4 separate regions of the Homo sapiens genome follow, and regions 1, 3 and 4 are each linked to region 2. Evidence: fine-mapped expression QTL. A gene starts in region 2. Each other region holds a variant in brackets. All regions are shown on one strand. Distances are from middle to middle.

Region 1 (5,000 bases), 190 kb before region 2:
CACTTTACCCTTGACCTCCTGGCCTCAAATGATCCTCCTGCCTCAGCCTACCGAATAGCCTAGGACCACAGGCGCAAGATACCATGCCTGGATGATTTTGTAAAATTTTGTAGCCGGGGCACGGTGACTCATGCCTGTAGTCCCAGCACTTTTGGAGGCCGAGGCGGGCGGATCACGAGGTCAGGAGATTGAGAACAGCCTGACCAACATGGTAAAAACCCCATCTCTACTAAAAATATAAAAATTAGCTGGGCAGAGTGTCGTGCACCTGTAATCCCAGCTATTCAGGAGGCTGAGGCAGGAGAATCGCTTAAACCTGGGAGATGGAGGTTGCAGGGAGGAGAGATCGCGCCATTGCACTCCAGCATGGGCGACAGAGTGAGACTACATCTCAAAAAAACTTACAGTAGAGATCCATTGTCTTGTCATGTTGCCCAAGATGGTCTCAAACTTCTGGCCTCTAACAGTCCTCCTGTCTCAGCCTCTCAAAGCATTGAGATTACAAGTGTGAACCATTACACCCAGCCTGTTGTTTTTAAAGTTGTATATTATTATTATTATTATTTTTTGTTTTTGAGATGGAGTCTCGCTCTGTCGCCCAGGCTGGAGTGCAGTGGTGCGATCTCGGCCCACTGCAAGCTCTGCCTTCCCGGGTTCACGCCATTCTTCTGCCTCAGCCTCCTGAGTAGCTAGGACTATAGGCGCCTGCCACCACGCCCGGCTAATTTTTTGTATTTTTTAGTAGAGATGGGGTTTCACCGTGTTAGCCAGGATGTTCTCAATCTCCTGACCCCGTGATCTGTCCGCCTCGGCCTCCCAAAGTGCTGGGATTACAGGCGTGAGCCACCACGCCCAGCCAGTATTACTATTTTTTTGAGAGGGAGTCTCACTCTGTCGCCAGCAGTCTCGACTCACTGCAACCTCCGCCTCCTGGGTTCAAGCAATTTTCTTGCCTCAGCCTCTGGAGTAGCTGGGACTACAGGCGTGTGCCACCATGCCTGGCTAATGTTTTGTGTTTTAGTAGAGATGGGGTTTCACCGTGTTGGCCAGGATGGTCTTGATCTGACCTCGTGATCGGCCCACCTCAACCTCCCAAACTGCTGGGATTACAGGCATAAGCCGCCGCACCCAGTCAGTTTTTAAATATATATAGTTATTGTTTCTGCATTGTTCTGTTTCTTCTAACATTAGACCAGTAGTACATATGATGGTTAGGATTGTAATCTGAGTTCCAGGAGCAGGATGCTGCTCTTCGGTCACTTCAGAACCTCGAGATATCACCGAAAACCCTCCCTACCCACCTCTGCTATTATTGCACTTCTCGCCTAGTATTGTGGTATGTAAAAAAGTCATTAAATTCTTAAATTATTTATTTTATTTTCTCTCTATATATACGTGTGTGTGTGTATATATATGTATATATGTATATATATATATTTTTTGGTTTTTTGAGACAGTCTCATTCTATGGCTCAGCAATGTCGCCATCTAGGATCACTGCAACCTCTGCCTCCCAGGTTCAGGGGATTCTCATGCCTCAGCCTCCCAGGTAGCTGGGATTATAGGCATGTGCCACCACGCCCAGCTAATGTTTGTATTTTTAGTAGAGACTAGTTTTCACTGTGTTAGCCAATCTGGTCTTGAATTCCTGACCTCAAGTGATCCACCCACCTCGGCCTCCCAAAGTGCTGGATTACAGGCCTGTGCCAGCGTGCCTGGCCTTATTTTATTACTATTATTATTTTTGAGATAGAGTCTTGCTCCATTGCCCGGGCTGGAGTGCAGTGGCACGATCACTGGCTCACTGCAGTCTCAACCTCCTGGGATGAAGAGATCCTCTCTCCTCAGCCTCTTGATTAGCTGGGACTACCTGGCTACATTTTTTGTTTTTTTTTTTTCTCTTCCAGATGGAGTCTTGCTTTGTTGCCCAGGCTGTAGTGCAGTGGTGTGATCTCTGCTCACTACAACCTCCACCTCCTGAGTTCATGTAATTCTCCTGTCTCAGCTTCCTGAGTAGCTGGGATTACAGACATGCACCACCATACCCGGATAATTTTTGTATTCTTTTTTTTTTTGGTACGGAGTTTCTTTCTTCTTGCCCAGGCTGGAGTACAGTGGCGTGATCTTGGCTCACTGCAACTTCCACCTCCCAGGCTCAAGCGATTCTTCTGCCTCAGCCTCCCGAGTAGCCGGGATTACAGGTGCCTGCCACCACGCCTAGCTAATTTTTTTGCATTTTTAGAGACAGGGTTTCAACAGGTAGAGCAGACTGGTCTCGAATTCCTGACTTCAGGTGATCTGCTCGCCTCAGCCTCCCAAAGTGCTGGGATTGTAGCCGTAAGCCACTGCCCCCAGCCAGTTTTTGTATTTTTAGCAGAGATGGAGTTTCACCATGTTGGCCAGGCTGGCCTCGAATTCTTGACCTCAAGTTATCCACCAGCCTCAGCCTCCCAAAGTGCTGGATTACAGGTGTGAGCCACTGCACCTGGCCCTGGATTACAGGTGTGAGCCACTGCACCTGGCC[C/G]TGGCTCACCTTTTGTCCTTTTTTTTTTTTTTTTTTTTTTTTTGAGACAGAGTCTTGCTCTGTCGCCCAGGCTGGAGTTCAGTGGCGCAATCTCCGCTCACTGCAAGTTCTGCCTCCCGGGTTCATGCCATTCTCCTGCCTCAGCCTCCCGAGTAGCTGGGACTACAGGCGCCTGCCATCACGCCCGGCTAATTTTTTTGTATTTTTAGTAGAGATGGGGTTTCACCGTGTTAGCCAGGATGTCTCAATCTCCTGACCTCATGATCCGCCCACCTCAGCCTCCCAAAGTGCCGGGATTGCAGGCGTGAGCCACCGCGCCCAGCCCCTTTTGTACTTTTTGTAGAGATGAGGTTTCACCGTTTTGCCCAGTGTGACCTCGAACTACTGAGTTCAAGTGATCTGCCCACTTTGTCCTCCTAAAGTGTTAGGATTACAGGCGTGAGCCACTGCATCCGACCTATTAAATTATTTTTAAGAGAACTATTGTATTAATGATTTTTCCCTACTTTTCTATTTTGTACATTTAGCTGCAGTTTAAAATCTTTAGGCTGGCCCAGGCATGGTGACTCACGCCTGTATCCCAGCACTTTGGGAGGTCAAGGCAGGTGGTTCACTTGAGGTGAAGAGTTCAAGAGCAGCTTGACCAACATGGTAAAAACCCCATCTCTACTAAAAATCCAAAAAATTAGGCCAGGTGCGGTGGCTCACGCCTGTAATCCCAGCACTTTGGGAGGTCAAGGCAGGCGGATCATGAGGTCAAGAGATTGAGACTATCCTGGCCAACATGGTGAAACCCCATCTCTAGTAAAAATACAAAAATTAGCTGGGCGTGGTGGCATGTGCCTGTATTTCTAGCTACTCGGGAGGCTGAGGCAGGAGAATTGCTTAAACCTGGGAGGCAGAGGTTGCAGTGAGCCGAGATTACACCGCTGCACTCCATCCTGGCTACAGAGTGAAACTCTGTCTCAAAAATAAATAAATAAATAAAACATTAGCTGGGCATGGTGGCGTGCACCTGTAATTTCATCTACTCGGGAGGCTGAGGCAGGAGAATTGCTTGAACCCAGGAGGTGGAGGTTGCAGTGAGCAGATATCGCACCACTGCACTCCAGCCTGGGTGACAGAGGGAGACTCCGTCTCAAAATAAATAAATAAATAAAATCTGTAGACTACCTCTTAGGTTGGTTATGTGTCTTTCCCACCATTAATAAGATCTGATGTTTTCCCTTTCTTTTTTTTAATACACTTTGCCTTGACTATAAGCTTTGAAGTTGTTTTCAAATTGTCATCTTTTCAGTCTTGAGTTTTTGTTCTTTTTTCAGAACCTGGCTATACATTTCTTTTTGCATACTTACTCTTGAAGGTGCCTCATCAGTTGCCACTTAAGCATATCTGATTCTTAAAAATTTGAATATTCAAGAACAAATTGTAAAAATATTCCTTGTATAATTTTTGGTTTTGTAGTAATTCCTTTGTTTGCTTCACAGTACTTCTGCAGAGTGATCCATTTGTAATTAATAGACACACACACATCATCCACCATTGAGCTTTATCTTCTCATTAGAAAGTGCGTCTAACCCCTATATTTTGAGATCCTGGATTTCAGAATATTGGACTTGATGTAGACACGAGTTTCTCAGCTTTACATATCATAGGATGAAATGTATATAACAAAAGTTGAATAGCTAACATCTAACTATAGAAACCAAGTAGATTATCAGACTTGTCCTGTTTTGAGGTAATACTGCCATGCCCTTAAAATGAAGCCTTATTCCTGCTGCTAGCAGATTCATGTATATAAATTAGAGGCACTAATCTTGGTCTCCTCTTGTCATAAAAATTACTTCCTCTGTGGGATCTGGCTGTTCTTAAAATGGGAGGCTCTTCCTTGAATTAGATTTCAAAGTGTTAGTCTCTTATGAATTAGCTTAGCATCATTTTCTGTAGACTGTATCAGAACTGTCAGATGTTTGTGCTTGGAATGCTGAAATTTGCATCTCAAAATTTCAAATTCTTTACCTGATTTCTTGTTATCATGTGTCTTACTTCCTGAGAAGATGCAGGGAGCACATGACATAGATGAACTAAGTTTCTTATATCTTATTCTGGTCATGTAAACTAGATTTTTTTGTGGCCTAAAACCAAATAGTCCTGACCAACCTTACGTGTTTCTTTTCCTCCCGTTCATCTGGTCCAGCCTAACCAATTAAGATGTGGACAAAGTAGCTGCAAGAGAGGGCAGAGGGAAGGGAGAGAAAACTTTGCCCTTTTCCTTGGAACAAACCACCTATGGAAGGGATCATTGGTACACTTTATTCTAGTACATATCAGAGTGTTTACTTTTTTTTTTTGAGACGGGGTCTCGCTCTGTTGCCCAGGTTGGAGTGCAGTGATGCAATCTCGGCTCACTGCAACCTCCGCCTCCCAGGTTTAAGCGATTCTCCTGCCTCAGCCTCCTGAGTAGCTGGGATTACAGG
Region 2 (5,000 bases):
TTCCCTGAAAGATCAGGTAACCAAGCCTCCTGAATTTCACATTTCCACTCATTGAGGTGTGGGGGGAGGAGGGAGATGAAAGCACCTTATTTACATCTACCCAGGAACGCGACTTCATTATCTCTCAGTGAACAAGGAGTATGTCTTTCCCATCTCCCTCTTTTTCCTAACACGGACAGGGATAGAGTTGTTTTTGAAAGGGCTTTCTCCCCTGTGCTCCTTATGGACATCAAATAACTAAGATGGTGAAATTCTGCAGTAAACACAACAACATATTTGCCTCAAAACCTGTGGATTAGGCTGGGCGCGGTGGCTCACGCCTGTAATCCCAGCACTTTGGGAGGCCAAGGCAGGCGGATCACGACGTCAGGAGATCGAGACCATCCTGGCTAACACGGTGAAACCCCGTCTCCACTAAAAATACAAAAAAAAAAAAAAAAAAATTAGCCGGGCGTGGTGGCGGACGCCTGTAGTCCCAGCTACTCGGGAGGCTGAGGCAGGAGAATGGCGTGAACCCAGGAGGCGGAGCTTGCAGTGAGCCGAGATTGCGCCACTGCACTCCAGCCTGGGCGACAGAGCGAGACTCCGTCTCAAAACAAAACCAAAACAAAACAAAAAATCTGTGGATTACAACTTTTTAGTGACTTTTTAATATAATAATGATAGCTGAGATCAGTAGAGCACACGCTCTGAGTCTGGCACTGTACCAAATGCTTGACAAGTATTATAGTATTTATTACTCACAACCATCTCAAGAGGAAGGTATTATCATCATTATTTCCATGCTACAGAAGAAGGAACAGTGGCTGAGGGAAGTAAAAATAAAAGCACTTAGTCGAGATCACAGAGCTATTATGTGGAGCCTAGATTCAAACCCAGGAAATTTGCCAGCAACTCTTAACTGCTGCAAGAGACCACATGACTTCTCCTAGGAGAAAGGGAAGTTGGTATTACGCACATTTCATTCCCTTTAAGTGTTTATTGTGTAATATTTAAGATAGAAAAAATGTACATTATGCACAGATAGTGCTTCCTCATTAATTTATGTATTTTATATTTCCCACTGTGTGCCAAGTATTAGGGATGTGATATATATTCGCACGCGTATGTATATATATATATTTGCCATTGTGTACCAAACATTAAGCATGTAACAACAAATTCCTCCAGATGGAGAGGGTCACGAGAAAATTAAGGCAATGTTAGAAAAATCATCTAGAGTTTATTATCGAGTGCCACCTCCGTGTCTAGCATTACGCTGGGTAAGCCTGAGTAAAGAAGAGTGTCCGAAAACCCTGCCATAAAATAAACTACATAGACAGAAAAAAAGTCACTTAGTTTGGTTATAAAGAAAGGAGTCTTGTTCACACAGCGTAAAAACGAATCTTATAATCGTATTTTATAAGCATCAGAGGCAAAAGCAACTAGGGTGACGGGCTTTGGGGAGTGGAAAGCGCCGGATCCTGGGAGCCAGTCGCCCTACTCGATCAAGCATTTTCTGACGGCCCTATCCAATAACGTGGGGACGCAGCTGAAAACCATGCAAGCTGATCGCTGCCCTCCCGGAGTTTATGGTCTGGTGAGAAGATCCCTGCTCTGAGTCACTGCCAAGCTCTAGCTATGTGACTTTGAACAGGGAATTTCTGTCCCTATCTATAAAATAAACGGGGTTAAACCAGGGAATCCGCCATTCAAATTCCTGGCCCAAGTGTCTCCGGGGTCGCGGTGCCCAAAGGAGGGTGGGCGAGGCTCCCTGGGCCTGCGCTGCGGCGGCCTGACAGCGGGAGCGCTGTTCCGGCGCAGAGCGCGTTCGCGTTCCGAAAGCGCGTGTCCCTCGCCGCGTGCCGTCGTCCCCGCCGCCGCCGCCGCCGCCGCCGCCGCCGCCGCCGCCGCCGCCGCCGCCACAGCCCGCTGGGCCGGAGGAGGCGGAGCTGGCGCTGTCCCGGCTCTCTTGCGGGGAAGCAACTGAGGGGGCGGCGCGGCGGGCCCCGGCGGCCGAAGAGGCTGGCAGGTGGCGCCGTGGGGTGGGTGCTCCTGGTGAGAGGAGTCCACTCCGTGCGTGCGGGCGGAGGCCGGCCCCCGAGAGCCGCCGACATGAAGAAAGACGTGCGGATCCTGCTGGTGGGAGAACGTGAGTCCGCACCCTCTGGCCGGCCCCTGAGTCCCTGCCCTCCCTGCCCCTGCAGCCCCTGTCGCCCCTGTCGCCCCTGCAGCCCCAACCTTTGCAGCCCCGGCCCTTCTCGCGCCTCACAGCTCCGCTCGCCTTTCTCCGCGTTCCTAGGCCTTCCAGCCCCTTCACTCTTCTCTTTTGGCTGGCCGCCGGCGGCCCTCACCCTGTCACCTCACCTGGGCCCTCCAGAGATCTCCTTTCCCTGTTCCCCAGCCGTCCTCCCAAGCCATGTCCCTATTAGCCCTAACCGCCCGACCTCATCCCTCCGAAGCTTCTCTCCTCCTTTTCCTCTTCGAACCCTGTCCTTCTGGGCCTCACAGTTTCCCAGGCCGCCTCCTTTCAGACCTTCTTGTCTTCTGGAGATTCCCTTATCACTGCCAGGCAGGTGCTGGAATAAGCAGACTGACCAATAGGGATTGCGTGAACCGGCTCCCGGGGAAGCTGGGGGAGGGGTGCAGAACTATTCGACTTGTGGGCAAGGTCAGGTTTCTGCATTTTTTTGGCACTCGCAGTCTTCACTCTCTCTATGTATTGACATTAAGATATGAGTAGTGGAAAGGGCCGGATCCTTTTTAGCAGTACTTGTACTTTGCATTGGACTAACTCCTCGTACTCGAGATATTTCATCAAAAATTTTTACTCAACTTCGAGTTATGCAAGCGCTCAATGAATTAGAATTATCTGGGGAGGGTCCAATTGTTGTTACCCTAAAGCGTAATCTTTGCCCTCTTTTTAAGCATTATTTATTCCATAGTTACTTCGTAGTTAACTTATTAATAACCACAGGCACACAGACATTTGATATCTCCCCCCACCCAGAAATTTCATACATTTCACCTTTTGAAAATATAATAAAGGAGAGTTCCCTCTGTTCACTGACATGAGGACGCAACAGCGGGGACTTCTTGATTTCACTCTGCAAGTTATGTAACTCAGTTGCTAGGACTAAAATAAGAAAGTGGGCCAGGGATAACTGGATTGTTTGTTTTAAAGAGTTAATACATTCGTTAATAGTCTGCCATTGCTGTTTCGAAGCATTCTGTTTTAAACCATTATTTCATTCTTGGTAACCCCTCAGGGTCACCGTGATGGAATCCCAAGGAAGAAAGTTAACACGTTTTTACCCTCTTCTGTAGTGTTCTTTGAGTTCATTGAAATTTCATCCACCTGCTGTTTGGAGAAATCTTCCTTTAGAATTAGAATTTAGGAGTAAGCTTAGCCAGCCATAGTTTACTTTTTGATTTGCAGTTGTAAATTTTTATTTTTATTTATAACTATATCTTAATCTGTATTTTTCATGGACTTCCTTGACAAGGTTCAGGAAGGTGTTATTTAACATATAATTCATGCTTATGCTTTTGGAGCAAGGTAGGGAAAGTGAGTAGACGACTTGCTTAAAAAACTGATCCTTAAATATATGATGAAATAGTTTGTTGTTGTTGTTGTTTTGAGACAGAGTCTCGCTCTGTCACCGAGGCTGGAGTGCAGTGCCTGGGATTACAGGCACTGTGGCTCATGCCTGTAATCCCAGCACTTTGGGAGGCCAAGGCAGGCAGATCACTTGAGGTCAGGAGTTCGAGACGAGCCTGGCCAACATGGTGAAACCCCGTCTCTACTAAAAATACGAAAATTAGCCGGGTGTGGTGGCACACACCTGTAGTCCCAGCTACTCTGGAGGCTGAAGCAGGAGAATCACTTGAACCCTGGAGGAGGAGGTTGCAGTGAGCTGAGACATGCCAGCCTGGGCAGCAGAGCAAGACTCTGTCTGAAAAAAAACCTTTAATAATGCTCCCACACAGCTGGGTGAGGTGGCTTATACCTGTATTCCAAGCACTCTGGGAGGCTGAGGCAGGAGGATCACTTGAGGCCAAGGAGTTTGAGACCAACCTGGGCAATGTAGTGAGATCCTGTCTCTACAAAAAATTTAAATATTAATGGCTGGGCACAGTGGCTCACTCCTGTAATCCCAGCACTTTGGGAGGCTGAGGCAGGAGGATTGCTTGAACGCAGGAGTTTGAGACCAGCCTGGGCAACATAGTGAGACCCCGCCTCAAAAAAAAAAAACCACAACACTATTAGCTAGGCATGGTGGTGTGCACCTGTAGTCCTAGCTACTGGGGAGGCTGAGATGAGAGAATTGCTTGAACCCAGAAAATCGAGGTTGCAGTGAGCCATGATCACACCACTGCACTTCAGCCCAGGTGACAGAGCAAGACTGTCTCTTAAAGAAAAAATTAATTTTTAATGGCTGGGCACAGTAGCTCATGCCTGTAACCCCAACACTTTGGGAGGCCAAAGTGGGCAGATCACCTGAGGTCAGGAGTTTGAGACCAGGAAACTGACCAACATGACGAAACCCAGTCTCTACTAACAATACAATAATTAGTCAGCTGTGGCAGCACGCACCTGTAATCCCAGCTACTCAGGAGGCTAAGGCAGGAGAATGGCTTTCACCCAGGAGATGGAGGTCGCAGTGAGCTGAGATCACACCACTGCATTCCAACCTGGGGGACAGAGTGAGACTCTGTCTCAAAAAATATATATATATATTGATAATAGTAAACAGGATAGTTTTCATTTTAATGGAGTCTTCTTTTTAAATTAAATTGAGATATATTTGTTTTCTACTAGTTAAGTTCCTTAAGAAAATGGAACTGTTATCTTCTTTTAAAATGAATCTGGCAGATCTTTAACTGGTTTGTCTAACTCTGATTATCATGGCAACCTCTGCCAAACTACTTCAAAATTCCACTGGCTTTGGCCTTGACTTTTGCAATATCTCCCTTAACCAGTCTTTCTGCTCCTGCTTTCCTCCATTTTCCGTGGAGCA
Region 3 (5,614 bases), 63 kb before region 2:
AGGCTAGAGTGCAGTGGCACGATCTTGGCTCACTGCAACCTCCTCCTCCCGGGTTCAAGCGATTCTCCTGCCTCAGCCTCCCAAGTAGCTGTGATTACAAGTGTGTGCCACCACACCGGGCTAATTTTTGTATTTTTAGTAAAGATGGGGTTTCACCATGTTTGCCAGGCTGGTCTCAAACTTCTAACCTCAAGTGATCCGCCTGCCTCGGCCTCCCAAAGTGCTGGGATTACAGACGTGAGCCATCACACCTGGCTAGAATGGGTAATTTATAAAGAAAAGAGGCTTAATTGACTCACAGTTCTGCGGGCTGTACAAGCACAGTGCTGGCATCTGCTTGGCTTCTGGAAAGATCTCAGGGAGCTTTAACTCATGGCAGAAGGTGAAGCAGGAACTTCACATGGCAAAAGCAGGAGCAGGAGAGAGAGTGGGGTGGAGGGGAGGTGCCACACACTTAAACAACCAGATCTCCAGGCCAGGTGCAGTGGCTCAAGCCTGTAATCCCAACACTTTGGGAGGCCAAGGCAGGTGGATCATTTGAGGTCAGGAGTTCGAGACCACCCTGACCAACACAGTGAAACCCCATCTTTACTAAAAATACAAAAAAATTAGCTGGCCGCAGTGGCGCAGGCCTATAATCCTGGCTACTCAGGCGGCTGAGGCAGGAGAATCGCTTGAATCCAGGAGGTGGAGGTTGCAGTGAGCTGAGATTGCACCACTGCACTCCAGCCTGGGTGACAGAGCGAGAATCCATCTCAAAAAACAAACAAACAAAACAACTAATTCTCCAAAGAACTCACTCACAATTGTGTGGACAGCACCAAAGAGATGGCGCTAAGCCATTCATGAGGGATCCGCCCCCATGATCCAATCCCCTCCCACCAAGCCCCACCTCCAATATTGGGAATTACAGTTCAACATGAGATTTGGCAGGGAAACAGATCCAAACTACATCAGTTCATCTATAATATATGATTTTTTATTTATTTTTTTTTTTTTGCCCCGAGGGAGGAAGAATTTTCTGAATCCCTGTGGTTAGTAAAAGAGAGAGGCGGCCGGGTGCGGTGGCTCATGTCTGTAATCCCAGCATTTTGGGAGGCTGAGGCGGGCTGATCACGAGATCAGGAGATCAAGACCATCCTGGCTAACATAGTAAAACCCCGTCTATACTAAAAATACAAAAAAAATTAGCTGAGCGTGGTGGTGCATGCCTCTAGTCCCAGCTACTAGGGAGGCTGAGGCAGGAGAATGGCGTGAACCCAGGAGGCGGAGCTTGCAGTGAGCCGAGATCATGCCACTGCACTCCAGCCTGGGCGACAGAGCGAGACTTCGTCTTAAAAAAAAAAAGAGAGAGAGAGAGCCATGATCAGGAAGCCGTCATGATGACTCGTGGAGACACTGGCCCTGAAGTAGCTGCAACCCTCTTAATACACAGGAAGAAAGGGCTGGGATGCAGGAAGGAAGGGCTGGGAGGCAAGCACAGGCAGCCCCTCTGTGAACCCTCAGGTAGGAGCCACCAGCCATTTTACTGCTGAGTTTAGCATTTGGGGTTGTTCAAGAGTTCAGGGCTTCTGGGAGACTAGAGAATGCCTTCATCTCCAGGGCACTAAAACCTCAGTTACCTAATCTGTGAAATGGGTATGATCATAGCAATCCCACAAAACTGCTGGTAGGGTTACATGTAATTATTTCTCCTTTTTTTCTTTTTTTAAGAGATGGGTTCTCCCTATGTATGTTGCCCAGGCTGGACTTGAACTCCTAGGCTCAAGTGATCCTCCCACCTTGGCCTTCCAATGTGCTGGGATCACAGTAAATTTTTTCTTGTAGAAACAGGGTCTCCCTGCTGGGCACGGTGGTTCACACCTGTAATTCCAGCACTTTGGGAGGCTGAGGCGGGTGGATCACCTGAGGTCAGGAGTTTGAGACCAGCCTGGCTGACACGGTGAAACCTTATCTCTACTAAAAATACAAAAAATTGGCCAGGCGCGGTGGCTCACGCCTGTAATCCCAGCACTTTGGGAGGCCAAGGTGGGTGGATCACGAGGTCAGGAGATGGAGACCATCCTGGCTAACATGGTGAAACCCCATCTCTACTAAAAATACAAAAAATTAGCCAGGCGTGGTGGCGGGCGCCTGTAGTCCCAGCTACTGGGGAGGCTGAGGCAGGAGAATGGTGTGAACCCGGGAGGCAGAGCTTGCAGTGAGCCGAGATCGTGCCACTGCACTCCAGCCTGGGCAACAGAGTGAGACTCTGTCTCAAAAAAAAAAAACAAAAAACAAAAGAAAACAAAAAATTAGCTGGGTGTGGTGGTGGGCACCTGTAATCTCAGCTACTCAGGAGGAGGAAAATCGCTTGAATCCGGGAAACAGAGGTTGCAGTGAGCCGAGATCACACCATTGCACTCCAGCCTGGGTAACAAGAGCAAAACTCTGTCTCAAAAAAATAATAATAATAAAATAACAATGGATTGGTTGAGAGATCACCGTATGCCAGAAGTTGCTTTAAGCATTTTGCATGTATTAATCCATTTTACACCTCACAATATCGCTACCAAGTAGAAACGATTATCTCGATTTTGTAAAAGGTGAAACAGGAAAAAACCACTAGAGCAGAGCTGGCAGACCCTCAACCTTCTTTTCCTTCTGACTCCAAATGACAGACAGCATTCTTTCCATCTCTCACCTCCTCATGCCTCCTGTGGAAAAAATGAATGAACAGATGAGAAAAGTTGGAGCTGGAGAAAGACCGTGTTCCTCGTGTTCTGTGAGACCTGGGAAGGCTGCTAAAACCCAGGGAGCAGGAGTTCTCCTCCCTCCATCCTTATCCACAGTCTGGGTCCCATCCAGACCCTCCTCTCCAAACCGGGGGTTTGCGACAAAGCAGGTGAGGGAGGCATTTCATTCCAGAGCAGAAGAAGGGGGTTCCTCCCCCATCCCACTCCCGTTTCATTTTTAAGGGGAAAAGCAGCTCCCCATACGGTGAGGCAATGAGGCGGACCAGCAGGTTCCTGGGGATCTC[C/T]GCAGCCCCGTTGCCATAACAACTGAACTCACTCGCAGCCTCTGATAGGGGAGTCAGCTGGAACCACAGCTTGGGCAGGAAACGGATGAGGGAGTAGGAAAGAAACTTCAAGATCAACCACTGGCCCTCACACCGAGCTGCGCACACCCCAAGGCCAAGTGAGGCTGGAAACCCTTGTTGTCCTTGGGAAATGGGGGAGGGCACTGGTACCCCTGGGACCTCCCTCCTGAATCTGGGCAGGTTTAAACATTTTTTTTCCAACTTTGGAAGACAGTTGTACAACCTCGAAGGAGAGGAGGTGTCAGGATTCACAAAGCGTATGGATCACACATGGCTCTAGGGGACATTCTCTTTGCTCTGTTTTATTTTTATTGTATATTTTATTCTTTTATTTTGCGATAGGGTCTTGCTCTATTGCCCAGGCTGGAGTCCAGTGGCATGACCACACCTTACTGCAGCCTCAAATTACTGGACTGAGGTGATCCTCCTGCCTCAGCCATGCGAGTAGCTGGGACTACAGACATGCACCACCACACCTGGCTAATTTTTAAAATATATATGTTTTTGTAGAGATAGGGTCCTGCTACATTGCCCAGGCTGGTCTCAAACTCCTGGCTTCAAGTGATCCTCCTGCTTTGGCCTCCCAAAGTGTTGGGATTATAGGCATGAGCCACTGCATCCAGCATCATTTCTTTTCATTATTATTATGATTATTATTTTGAGATGGAGTCTCGCTCTGTCACCCAGGCTGTAGTGGAGTGGTGTGACCTCGGCTCACTGCAACCTCCACCTCCCAGGTTCAAGTGATTCTCCTGCCTCAGCCTCCTGAGGAGTTGCGATTACAGGTACCCTCCACAATGCCTGGCTAATTTTTTTTTCTTTTTGAGACGGAGTTTTCCTCTGTGTCCCAGGCTGGAGTGCAATGGCGCGATCTCAGCTCACTGGAACCTCTGCTTCCCAGGTTCAAGCAATTCTTCTGCCTCAGCTTCCTGAGTAGCTGGGACTACAGGCAGGCACCCACCACACCTGACTAATTTTTGTATTTTTAGTAGAGACGGGGTTTCACCATATTGGCTGGTCTCAAACTCCTGACCTTATAATCCGCCCACCTCGGCCTCCAAAGTGCTGGGATTACAGGCGTAAGCCACCGTCCCTGGCCTAACCTGGCTAATTTTTATATTTTTAGTAGAAACGGGGCTTCACCATGTTTTCAAGGCAAGTCTCGAACTCATGACCTCAAGTGATCTGCTCACCTTGGCCTCCCAAAGTGCTGGGATTACAGGCGTGAGCCACTGCACCCAGCCTAATCTTTTTTTTTTTTTTTTTTTTTTTTAATGAAGACAAGGGCTCACTGCATCACCCAGGCTGGTCTCGAGCTCTTGGCCTCAAGCGATCCTCCCATCTCAGCCTCCTGAGTAGCTTGGATTACAGGCACAAGCCATCATGACTGGCTTCCTCTTTTTTTTTTTTTTTAATGAATATGGTAAAGTGCACAAATCATAAATTTCAGCGTGGTGAATTTCTACACATGTATACCTGTGTATCCACCATGCAGACCAGAAGAACATATTTGTCCCTCCAGGAAATTCCCAAATGCTCTTTCTCAGTCAATATCCTCCAATTTGACATTTTCATCATAGATTAGTTTTGCCTACCCCTGAACTTTGTGTAAGTGGAAATACATGGTTTGGCATCTTGCTTTTACGCAACATTGTATCTGTGAGAATCTATTGTCATGTCTGTTTTCCTGTTCTTTTTCTTTGTTGTATAATATTCCATTGTGGAGATGTATCACAATGTATTTATCTTACTGCTGATAGATATTTGAGTTGTTTGCAGTGAATGGTTATTGTAGATAAAGCAGCTATGAACATCCTTGTACATGTCTTTTGATGAACATAAGTTTACCTCTTGTGGGGATGTGGACAGGGTCTCACTCAGTAACTCAGGCTGGATCGCAGGAACCTGGCTCACTGTAGCCTCAACCTCCCAGGCTCAAGTGATCCTCCCACCTCAGCCTCCCGAATAGCTGGGACCACAGGTATACACTATCACACCCAGCTAATTTTTTTGTAATTTTTGTAGAGACAGGGTCTCGCTTTGTTGTCCAGGCTGCTCTTGAACCCCTGGTTCAAACTATCCTCCTGCCTCGGCCTCCCAACATGCTGGGGTTACAGACATGAGCCACTGTGCCCAGCATCTTGGTTTATTGAATGCTGGCGACCTGCCAAGAACTTTACATCAGTTATATCCTTACATAGTCACAACATTATTTATTTAATTCACTCATTCAACGCATATTTGAAAATCTAGTAGGTGCCAGGTATTGTGGGACACACCGAGAATAAGAGTCAAGGTTTATAAATTTTGGCCAGGCGCGGTGGCTCACACCTGTAATCCCAGCACTTTGGGAGGCCGAGACGAACAGATCACTTGAGGCCGAAACAAACGGATGATGGAGGCCAGGGCAGAAGCCAGGAGGCTGTGGCCAAGGCAACCTCAGTAAATCCAGGCAAGTGATGAAGGAGTTGGGAAGCACAAACGTGAATTCATGTTCTCTCTCTCTTTTTTTTTTTTTAGAGACAGGGTCTTGCT
Region 4 (5,000 bases), 22 kb after region 2:
ATTATTTATGATATTCAAAGGCCAGTAGAATGATTTCATTTTGGTGTGGTAGATAATTGAGAGTCAAAGAAAGCGTTTGATCAGGTGAGTCAGAAAATGAAAAGAGCATGTAAGAAAAATGGACCAGCATTTATATTGTTGGTAGATTAATGAGGAGAGAGACTGGAGAAAGGGATAGGAAATTTGGGACTGGGAGATTTTTCAATAAAAGTACCATAATTAGGGAAATAGGGGAACAGTGAGGGAAGGAATGAATGTTAAAAATTTCAAAGGAAAATTTGACAGATCTTGACTGCTAAATGCAGAAGAATGATGAATCGGAGATGGTACATTTTTAAAATTTTTCTTTTTATCCAGATATGTAAAAAGAATGTTAACCAAGGCTGGGTGTGGTGGCTCACGCCTGGTAATCCCAGCATTTTGGGAGGCCAAGGTGGGCAGATCACAAGGTCAAGAGTTCGAGACCAGCCTGGCCAATATGGTAAAATCCCGTCTCTACTAAAAATACAAAAATTAGCCAGCGTGATGGTGCGCACCTGTAATCCCAGCTACTTTGGAGGCTGAGGCAGGAGAATCACTATAATCTGGGAGGCAGAGGTTGCAGTGAGCTGAGATCGTGCCACTGCACTCCAGCTTGGGTGACAGAGCAAGACTCCATCTCAAAAAAAAAGAAAGGGAAAAAAAAAACAAAGAATGTTAACTATATTGGTGATAACTATCTAAGTCTGTTACAATGTAATGTAAAAGTAGAGAGGACCTAGTGGCCATGATCAGTGGTATCCCCAGGATGAAGAATAGTGCCTGGTGGCCAGGCGTGGTGGCTCACCCCTGTAATCCCAGCACTTTGGGAGGCCGAGGCAGGTGGATCACGAGGTCAAGAGATCGAGACCATCCTGGCCAACATGGTGAAACCCTGTCTCTAATAAAAATACAAAAATTAGCCAGACGTGGTGGTGTGCACCTGTAGTCCCAGCTACTAGGGAGGCTGAGGCAGGAGAATTGCTTGAATCCAGGAGGCGGAGGTTGCAGTGAACCAAGATCGCGCCACTGCGCGAAAAGAATAGTGCCTGGCTTATAGAATTGCTTAAAAAATATTTATCAAAGGATGAAAGAATGCATTTAACCTGTCAACTTTTGGGTAAATTTTAGTTGTCATCTTTAACATCCCAATTTTTTTCTTTTTTTAGACGGAGTGTCGCTCCGTCGCCAGGCTGGAGTGCAGTGGCGCCGTCTTGGCTCACTGCAGCCTCTGCCTCCCGGGTTCAAGCGATTCTTCTGCCTCAGCCTTCCAAGCAGCTGGGACTACAGGCGTGTGCCACCATGCTCAGCTAATTTTTGTATTTTTAGTAGAGACGGGGTTTCACCATGTTGACCAGGATGGTCTTGATCTCTTGACCTCATGATCCGCCCACCTCGGCCTCCCAAAGTGCTAGAATTACAGGCGTGAGCCACCGTGCCCAGACTAACATCCCAATTTTTAATACCAAAAATTACCTTAAAAATAATACTTACTGAGGCTGAATGTGGTGGCTTACACCTGTAGTCCCAGCACTTTGGGAGGCTGAGGCAGATGGATGTCGAGCCCAGGAATTCAAGACCAGCCTGGGCAACATAGTGAAACCCTGTCTCTACTAAAAATACAAAAAATTAGCCAGGTATATAGTAGTGCACACCTGTAGTCCCAGCTACCCAGGAGGCTGAGGTGGGAGGATCGTTGATCCTGGAAGGTCAAAACTTCAGTGGTCTGTGATGGCACCACTGCACTTCAGCCTGGGTGACAGAGTGATACCCTGTCTCAAAAATAAATAAGCTGGGTGTGGTGGCTCACACCTATAATCCCAGCACTTAGGGAGGCCAAGGCAGGTGGATCACTTCAGGCCAGGAGTTCAAGACCAGCCTGGCCAACATGGTGAAACTCCCTCTCTACTAACAACAACAACAGCAAAACAAAAAACAAAAAAACAAAACAAAACAAAAAAAACAGGGCCGGGCGTGGGCGTGGTGGCTTACGCCTGTAATCCCAGCACTTTGGGAGGCCAAGGCAGGCGGATCACAAGGTCAGATCGAGACCATCCTGGCTAACACGGTGAAACCCCATCTCTACTAAAAATACAAAAAATTAGCTGGGCACGGTGGCAGGTGCCTGTAGTCCCAGCTACTTGGGAGGCTGAGGCAGGAGAATGGCGTAAACCCAAGAGGCAGAGCTTGCAATAAGCCGAAATCGCGCCACTGCACTCCAGCCTGGGCGACAGAGCAAGACTCCGTCTCAAAAAAAAAAAAAAAAAAAAAAAAA[AC/A]AATACAAAAATTAGCCAGGCATGGTGGCACATGCCTGTAATCCCAGCTACTCAAGAGACTGAGGCACAAGAATGGCTTGAACCTGGGAGGTGGAAGTTGCAGTGAACCAAGATCGTGCCACTGCACTCCAGCCTGAGTGATCGAGAGAGACCCTGTCTCAAAAAAAAAAAAAGTTACTGATCTTTTCTAGTTAAAAAATTTTTGTGTTTATTTTCCAAGATAACCACTTTAGTATAATATATTCATCCAGTGGTTTTTTCTATGCACATACATATTTATCTTTAAAATGGGATCATATTGCACATGTTGACTTATACCTGCATAAATATCATTTTTAGAAGTAAAATGGAACTTGAACCTCCAAATAATGACAAACCATAAAATAATAGGATAATAGAGGAATCTGTTAGTCTATACTCATATATAAATAAGTAAACAGGCATACCTCAGAGAAACTGTGAGTTTGGTTCTACACTACCACAGTAAAGTGGCTCACAAATTTTTTTGTTTTCCCAGTGCATATAAAAGTTATGTTTATAGGCTAGGTGTGGTGGTGCATGCCTGTAATCCCAGCATTTTGGGATGCCAAGATGGGCGGATCTCCTGAGACCAGGAGTTTGAGACCTGCATGGCCAACAAGGCGAAACCCCATCTCTACTAAAAATACAAAAAAATGTAGCCAGGCATGGTGGCACATGCTTGGAATCTCAGCCACTCGAGTGGCTGAGACATGAAAATCGCTTGAACCTGGGTGGCAGAGGTTGCAGTGAGCCAAGATTGTGCCACTGCACTCCAGCTTGGGTGACACAGCGAGACTCTATCTCAAAAAAAAAAAAAAAAAGTTATGTTCATACTATACTGTAGTCTGTTAAGTGTGTAATGTAATATCTAAAAAATGTACATACCTTAATTTAAAAATACTTTATTGTCAAAAAATGCTAATGATCATCTGAGCCTTCAGTGAGTTGTAACCTTTTTGCTGGTGGAGAGTCTTGCCTCAGGGTTGATGGCTGCTGACTGATTAGGGTGGTGATTCCTGAAGGCTGGGGTGGCTGTGGCAATTTCTTAAAATAAGACAACTATGACATTTGCTGCATCGATTGACTCTTCCTTTCACTAAAGATTTCTCTGTAGCATGTGATGCCATTTAATAGCATTTTACCCACAGTGGAACTTCTTTCAGAATTGGAGTCAATCCTCTCAAACCCTACTGCTGCTTTATCAACTAAGTTTATGTAATATTCCAGGTCCTTTGTTGTCATTTCAATATTGCTCACAGCATCTTCACCAGTAGATTCTGTCTCAAGAAACCACATTCTTTGCTCATCCATAATAAACTCTTCATCTGTTCAAGTTTTATTATGAGATTGCAGCAATTTAGTCACATTTTTAGGCTTCACTTCTAATTCTAGCTCTTTTCTTGCTATTTCCACCATATCTGCAATTCCTTCATTGAGGCTTGAATCCCTCAAAGTCATGTGAGGGTTGGAACCAACTTCTTCCAAACTCCTGATAATGTTACTTTGATCTCCTGTGAATCACAAATGTTCTTGATGGCATCTAGAATGGTGAATTATTTCCAGAAGGTTTTTAGTTTACTTTGCCCACATCCATCAGAGGAATCACTATCTATGGCAGCTATATATAGGCTTACACAATGTAAATAGTAAGCCTAAATAATAAGGCTTGAAAGTTATAATTACTCCTTGAACCATGGACTGCAGACTGGATGTCATGTTAGCAGGCACGAAAATAATCTCCTTGTACGTCTCCATCTGAGCTCTTGGGTGACCAGGTGTATTGTCAGTGAGCAGTAATATTTTGAAAGGAATCTTTTTTTTTTTTGAGGAGTAGGTCTCAACAGTAGCCTTAAAATATTCAATAAACCATTCTGTAAACAAATGTGCTGTCATCCAGGCTTTGTTATTCCATTTATAGAGCACAGGCAGAATAGATTGAGCATAATTTTTTTTTTTTTTTTGAGACGGAGTCTCGCTCTGTCGCCCAGGCTAGAGTGCAGTAGTGCAATCTTGGCTCACTGCAAGCTCCGCCTCCCGGGTTCACACCATTCTCCTGCCTCAGCCTCCCGAGTAGCTGGGACTACAGGCACCCACCACAATGCCCGGTTAATTTTTGTATTTTTAGTGGAGCCTCCCAAGTAGCCGGGATTACAGGCGTGAGCCACCATGCCCGGCCAGATTGAGCATAATTTTTAAGGGCCCTAGGATTTTCAGACTGGCAAATGACCACTGGCTTCCACTTAAAGGCAGCAACCTGCATTAGCCCCTAACAAGAGTCAGCCTATCCTTTTAAGCATTGAAACCAGGCATTGATATCTGCTCTCTAGCTATCGATGGCATCTTCTTCTGATACAAGGCTGTTTCATCTACATCGAAAATCTTGGTTGGGTCGTATAATACCAGCAACTTGGGAGACCAAGACAGGAGGATTGCTTGAGGCCAGGAGTTTAAGATCATCTTGGGCAACATGGTGAGACCCTGTCCGTACAAAGAATTAAAAAATTCACTGGATGTGGTGGCGTGGCCTGTGATACTAGCTACTCAGGAGGCTAAGGCAGGAGGATTGCTTGAGCCCAGGAGTTTGAGGCTACAGTGAGCTATGATCATCCCACTATGCTCTAGCCTAGGTGACAGAGACCCCCATCTCTAAGGAAAAAAAGAAAAGGAAACATTTGTTTACAGAAT

The links. PIP is the estimated chance that this variant, and not a neighbour inherited with it, causes the effect.
Region 1: its variant is the best candidate, but not a certain one, in a credible set for the expression of RHOT1 in whole blood (TOPMed, PIP 0.58).
Region 3: its variant is the best candidate, but not a certain one, in a credible set for the expression of RHOT1 in tibial nerve (GTEx, PIP 0.66).
Region 4: its variant is the best candidate, but not a certain one, in a credible set for the expression of RHOT1 in whole blood (INTERVAL, PIP 0.70).

What each region holds. Positions count from the first base shown.
Region 1 is chr17:31,955,355-31,960,354 of GRCh38, forward strand. The region is part of intron 4 of SUZ12 (SUZ12 polycomb repressive complex 2 subunit); the gene reads left to right. Among named protein-coding and RNA genes, the nearest start is that of SUZ12, 21 kb to the left of the region's middle. The variant C/G (reference allele first, on the strand shown) is at 2,524.
Region 2 is chr17:32,140,599-32,145,598 of GRCh38, forward strand. RHOT1 (ras homolog family member T1) reads left to right here and starts at 1,904. Exons shown (of 20, transcript NM_001033566.3): 1 at 1,904-2,131. The coding sequence starts at 2,095. LOC105371730 (a long non-coding RNA gene) reads right to left here and starts at 2,537. Exons shown (of 2, transcript NR_136413.1): 1 at 2,427-2,537; 2 at 628-2,115. RefSeq lists an enhancer at 1,235-1,404 and silencers at 1,865-2,094, 2,125-2,184.
Region 3 is chr17:32,076,888-32,082,501 of GRCh38, forward strand. No RefSeq gene overlaps it. Among named protein-coding and RNA genes, the nearest start is that of VILMIR, 3.3 kb to the right of the region's middle. The variant C/T (reference allele first, on the strand shown) is at 3,020.
Region 4 is chr17:32,163,069-32,168,068 of GRCh38, forward strand. All of the region lies in intron 1 of RHOT1 (ras homolog family member T1), which reads left to right. Among named protein-coding and RNA genes, the nearest start is that of RHOT1, 23 kb to the left of the region's middle. The variant AC/A (reference allele first, on the strand shown) is at 2,294.